2 linked regions of the Homo sapiens genome follow. The protein of the gene in region 1 interacts with the protein of each later gene in a pairwise test. Each region holds a gene or a part of one and is shown on either strand. Other genes may lie near its edges. The genes, in order: RAD23B and DEAF1.

Region 1 (2,534 bases):
TTATTTTCCTGTTTACATTTTTTTTTTGTTTTGGGGAAAAAATTGGTAGGTGTCTAATTACTGTTTACTTCATTGTTATATTGCAGTAAAAGTTTTAAAACAACCATTGCATGTTTGCTTTTGATGTATCCCTTTGTGAAATTAGCACTTTTGGGGCCAATGGAGAAATGCAGCATTCACTCTCCCTGTCTTTTCCCCTTCCCTCAGCAGAAACGTGTTTATCAGCAAGTCGTGAGTCAAACTGCTGCCTTTTAAAAAACCCACAAAATGCTGATTCAGTTCAAAATTAATGCAAATGTTTCAAAACTGGGTTTCTGATATTTGTAAATGTGTTTCTTTATTAGATAAGAGTGTATTACCATTAAAGTCATTAGTATAATATTGCTTTCAAAAAGAAATGGTAGACAAAACTATAATCCAGCATCTTTTATTGCATTGGAAAGACTGGCAAAGTCTTTTGGATGGGTTGGGAGATGTGGCTGGAAAGTACTTTGGAAAATATACAATCAAGATATCTCATGGCATATTAAAAGAAAAATCTTAATAGCAGTGTTGGCTTTTATTTGGATTTTTTCATCTCAGTTTTTTCTGTGGAATCTCCTTCATTGGCATTGTTATTTAATCATAAACGGGGCAGATGTCTACTTGTTCAGTTTTTCAAATCTGTTTTCCTGAGTATAAATAAGAGTATTTAAAGAAATAATTTGGATTGCTTTTGTTTTTTGTTTCCTTTTTTTTAACCATCTGATACTAAGAAGATGAATTTGCACAGATTTCTCTGCATAATTTCTCAATATCTTTAGCACAGTATGGTGATGATGACTTTTAAGCATTTACATCACGTACTCATAACCTATTATGAAAATAAATGAAACTGGCTGGGTATGGTGGCTCATGCCTATAATCCCAGCACTTTGGGAGGCCGAGGTGGGCAGATCACTTGAGGCCAGGAGATTGAGACCAGCCTGACCGTCATGGCGAAACCCCGTCTATACTAAAAATACAAAAAATAGCCAGGCATGGTGGCGCACGCCTGTGGTCCCAGCTACTTGGGAGGCTGAGGCATGAGAATTGCTTGAACCCGGGAAGTGAAGGTTGCCGTGAGCTGAGATCACACCACTGCCATAAACATGACAGGCTTTTGGACTTTGTATTACCTGTATGTTTTATAATGGATCATGCATAATTTCTCAGGAGAATAAAATGAGAATTCATATATACGTTCATCTTTCAAGTCAGAGCAATGAGTTGGGAAAAGAGGTGGCATTTCTGATCGGATAATGGAATACTCTCATTTATTTTATGACATTCTCTGTCTACTCAGATCATAGTGAAAACTGGAAACAAAAAAAAAAAACAGCCTCTTCTTGGAAAGTGACAGCAGAAGGTGGCATGGAGCTTGTGTCCTTGGACAACAAATCTGGATATACTAGGATTAATTATCAGAAGACAGCTCAGGCCAAGTTTTGATCGTTCCATACAGTACCTTGTTTATCTGCTTCTTAAAGAATCAGCCGAGACACCATAAAAGAAATAGGCTTTTTGTGCCTTTTGCTGTTAATGTTTAATTTACAAACTGTTTTGGTAAATCTCTTAATGTAAGTAGCTATTTGACTTTGGAATTTTGCATTCGAGGTATACTGTCATTTCTTGAAATCTTTTTCTCGTTTAGTTGCTCTGTGGGAAATGTGAGGAAGCCTAAGTTTGTATTTGTAAATTTCTTATGCCATCCTCTAGTCAAATTTTTTTTCATTGTTTAAAAATACGGAAGTGTTCCAATATAATTTTTTCCTGTACTGGATGGCTAGGATTCTAGAGAATTGATTATAAAATATTTTCAATACATCCAACATTGCACTTCTCATTTTTTAAATGATTCTGTCACGTAGAATCAGAATTGAAAGTTGACAATGCTTCTGTCACTGATACTTCTTTTTACTTCAGTAATTGGTGAGTGTATCATATAGGAGGCCCAGGCACTAGATTGACTTTATTGGGTCTCCTGGTTCTTTTCTCAACACAGAGATGGGATACTTGCTGGGATGTTAAGGTTAGTGAGGTCTTCTAGGGAATGCATAAAATTTCCATTGTTCCATACTTGTCTGAAGCAGCCAGCCAAAGCCTGCTGCAAAATGTTCTACCGAAAGTAAGCAATTGGAGGGAATGAGTGTTCCTGACCCAGTCAGTTCTGGTGGATTCTCCAGCCATGAAGTTCAGTTGGCCTCCCCCATCCATTTTCCCCATTTTTTCCCCCTAAGCCAAGGGCTGGCAAACTACAGCTTCATGAGCCAAATCTGGCATATACCTGTTATGTGGTCCATGAACTAAGAGTGATCTTTACATTTTTAAATGGTTTCAATTGTATATGTTTTTTATCACCTCAAAAGTTTCAACTTACATTTCAGTGTCCTTAAAAGTGTTATTGAAACACAGCCATCCTCATTTGTTTACATATTGTCTATAGCTACTTTTGTGCTACAGAAGTTTGCTGTTGGATAGCTGCAGCAGACTGTGGCCTGCAAAGCCTAAATAAT
Region 2 (3,828 bases), on another chromosome or scaffold:
CTCCCGCGTTGGTCAATGGGCTGGAGCTGTCAGAGCCGCGGAGCTGGCTGTACCTAGAAGAGATGGTCAACTCCTTGCTCAACACAGCGCAGCAGCTGAAGACGCTGTTTGAGCAAGCCAAGCATGCCAGCACCTACCGAGAAGCTGCCACAAACCAGGCCAAGATCCACGCTGACGCAGAGCGGAAGGAGGTAACCTTGGAACAAATGGGAAGACACGACCTGTGCCGAGTAACCCCAGGCCACCCTGGTGCCTGTGCCCAGCTGCGCAAGCCCCACCTTGGCTCACAAGGCCCCTGCCCCACCTTTCTGGAAAAGGGAGCTGTGGAGAGTCATTTACAAATGAAGCTTTTCCTAAAGAAAAGTGACAGCTATTGTTGTTAAGGTGGTTTTGGTTTTTGTAAATAAGGTTGCTTTGTTTCAGAAAGGGAAACAATTTTGTGCGCATCGGCCGTTGTGAATACTCACCTTTTCTAGGCATTATTCATCCTTTGTCTTCCTGTAGTGAAATGTGCTTATATTTTATGAAGTTTGGAGAACATCATCTATTGAGTCTCTGAGTATCAGCGACTGGCAGGGCGAATGCTGAGCCCCTTCCTGGGAGCCGAGCTCCGTCCATCTGCTGTCACAAAGCCCTCCCAGCTTCTGGCACGTTCTTCAGAAGGCGGCTCCTGTGCATGGTGGGAGGCTCACAGGGCGTAGTGCCCATGTTTTCTGTAGCTTCCTATTACTGCAGCACAAGCAAAAGGTCACTTAGGCCCCTTCGGCCTCTTTTCATATGGAGTCTCTACTTCATATGAACCCTTTACTTAGATTGAAGACTTTGAGGTAATATAAAGGTTCAGGTGGGTGACATGAATAGGGTAGATAGAAATTACTAGAGCCAGAGTAAACTGGAGAGAGGGTGGAGGTTTCTCAGCTACTTCTCATAGCCCAAACCCAGCAGACAGGTACCGTGTGTCACAGGGCACGGGGACGAGAAGGTGAGAGAGGAGGGCGCCTGTCTGCTCAGCACAGATGGGGAGCTCTGAAGGCCACAGGAAAGGACAGGGATGGATTTTGTTGTAGCTGCTTTTTCGGGTACGGTAACGTGGACTTTGGTTTGTAAACAAAAGTCAAATTCATATTTTTCCCACCAAATCTATGTAAGAAACGTTTTCCCCCATTTCTTTTCTACTTTCTATTTTTATTTTTATTTGTGGAACAGGCTGTCACTCTGTCGCCCAGGCTAGAATGCAGTGGCACAATCTCGGCTCACTGCAACCTTTGCCTCCCGGGCTCCAGCGATTCTTGTGCCTCAGCCTCCCAAGTAGCTGGGACTACAGGCACCCACCACCACACCTGGCTAATTTTCTGTATTTTTGGTAGAGACGGGGTTTTACCATGTTGCCCAGGCTGATCTCACACTCCTGAGCTCAGGTGATCCACCCGCCTCAGCCTCTTAAAGTACTGGGATTGCAGATGTGAGCCACCATGCCCAGCTTCTACTTTTTATAGAAGAACTTTTTATTTATGTATTTATTTTATTATCATTATTTTTTTTTCAGCTGCTGCTTTATTTTACTTTATTTTATTTTTTGAGACGGAGTCTCGCTCCATCACCCAGGCTGGAGTGCAGTGGCACGATCTTGGCTAACTGCAACCTCCACTTCCTGGGATCAAGCAATTATCCTGCCTCAGCCTCCCAAGTAGCTGGGACTACAGGCGCCTGCTGCCATGCCTGGCTAATTTTTGTATTTTTAGTACAGACAGGGTTTCACCATGTTGGCCAGGCTGGTCTTAAACTCCTGACCTCAAGTGATCTACCCGCCTGAGCGTCTTAAAGTGCTGGGATTATACGTATTTATTTATTTATCTATTTAAAAAAAATTTTTTTTTTTGAGACGGAGTCTTGCTGTGTCGCTCAGGCTGGAGTGCAATGGCACAATCTCAGCTCACTGCAGCTTCCTCCTCCCGGGTTCAAGTGATTCTCCTGCCTCAGCCTCCGGAATAGCTGGGATTACAGGCATGTGCTACCACACCTGGCTGATTTTTTGTATTTTTAGTAGAGACGGGGTTTCACTATGTTAGCCAGGCTGGTCTTGAACCCCTGACCTCAGGTGATTCACCCACCTCAGTCTCCCAAAGTGCTGGGATTACAGGCATGAGCCACCTTGCCCGGCCTATTTATTTTTTAATTTTTAAATTTTTCTGTCATTCAGTGCACATCAGGTACTTGTTATAGATTCTACTAGACAAGCACATAACGAACAGTGATTATCATCCCAGGCCGTATTCAATGTTAGGGGTTTGTTACGGATTCTACTAGACAAGCACATAATGAACGGTGATTCTCAACCCAGGCCGTATTCAATGTTAGGGGTTTGTTACGGATTCTACTAGACAAGCACATAATGAACGGTGATTCTCAACCCAGGTCGTATTCGATGTTAGGGGTTTGTTACGGATTCTACTAGACAAGCACATAATGAACAGTGATTCTCAACCCAGGTCGTATTCGATGTTAGGGGTTTGTTACGGATTCTACCAGACAAGCACATAACAAACAGTGATTCTCATCCCAGGCCGTATTCTATGTTAGGGGTTTGTGTAGTTTCCCCAGGACCTGTAGTGGTGATTGTCCAGAAGCCTTCCATAGGAGGAATGCATGGTCATTAGGTATGCCACAGCTCCAAACACCAGCAACACCACTCAATGACTATTGAGGTAATGACAGTGACACTGCAGCTCCACATGGCTGGGGAGGTCTCACCATCATGGCAGATGGCAAAGCGGGAGGAAAGGCATGTCTTAATGGTGACAGGCGAGCAGAAGAGCTTTTTAGATTCTTAATTTTTTAAATGACTGATCAATATGTGATTAGTGTTTTTTGTGTTTCTTTTTTTTTTTTTTTTTTTTTTTAAGAGGTAAGGTCTCACTCTGTTGCCTAGGCTCATGGCTCATTGTAGGCTCAAACTCCTGGAAATACGGGTGCATGCCACCACGCTTGCCTAATTTATTTTTTTATTTTTTATTTTTTGTAGAGACTGGGTCTTGCCGTGTTGCCCAAGGTGGTCTCAAACTCCTGGGCTCAAGAGATCCTCCTGCCTCAGCCTCCCAAAGTGCTGAGATTACAGGCGTGAGCCACTGGACCCAGCATTAATTTTCTTTCAAGGAAGAAAAGTGTTTCTACTCCTGAAGACAAAGATAATTTTAAAATACTTTTTCACTGGGCACAGTGGATCACACTTGTAATCTCAGTGCTTTGAGAGGCTGAGGTGGGAGGATCTTTTGAGCCCAGGAGTTTGAGACCAGCTTGGACAACATGGTGAAACCCCGTCTCTACAAAAAAATATAAAAATTAGCTGGGTGTGGTGGTGGGCACCTGTAGTCTCAGCTACTTAGGAGGCTGAGGCAGGAGACTCACTTGAACCCAGGAGGCAGAGGTTGCAGTGAGCTGAGATCGGGCCACTGCACTCCAGTCTGGCGACAGAGCAAGACTCTGTCTCAAAAAACAAAAAGTCCAGGCGCGGTGGCTCACGCCTGTAATCCCAGCACTTTGGGAGGCCGAGGCGGGCGGATCACGAGGTCAGGAGATCGAGACCATCCTGGCTAACATGGTGAAACCCCATCTCTACTAAAAATACAAAAAATTAGCCGGGCGTGGTGGCGGGCGCCTGTAGTCCCAGCTCCTTGGGAGGCTGAGGCAGGAGAATGGCGTGAACCCGGGAGGTGGAGATTGCAGTGAGCCGAGATCGCGCCACTGCACTCCAGCCTGGGTGACAAAGTGAGACTCTGTCTCAAAAAAAAAAAAAAACATTAGCCAGGTGTGGTGACATGCCAGTCAAGA

What was found.
Region 2: the proteins of RAD23B (region 1) and DEAF1 interact in a two-hybrid assay, tested with the Homo sapiens proteins (one large-scale study listed by BioGRID and IntAct).

What each region holds. Positions count from the first base shown.
Region 1 is NC_000009.12:107,330,345-107,332,878, forward strand, and holds the end of RAD23B (UV excision repair protein RAD23 homolog B), read left to right. Parts: 3' UTR 1-1,845; downstream 1,846-2,534. UniProt on the Homo sapiens protein: Multiubiquitin chain receptor involved in modulation of proteasomal degradation. Binds to polyubiquitin chains.
Region 2 is NC_000011.10:670,899-674,726, reverse strand, and holds part of DEAF1 (deformed epidermal autoregulatory factor 1 homolog), read left to right. Parts: coding exon 1-191; intron 192-3,828. UniProt on the Homo sapiens protein: Transcription factor that binds to sequence with multiple copies of 5'-TTC[CG]G-3' present in its own promoter and that of the HNRPA2B1 gene. Down-regulates transcription of these genes.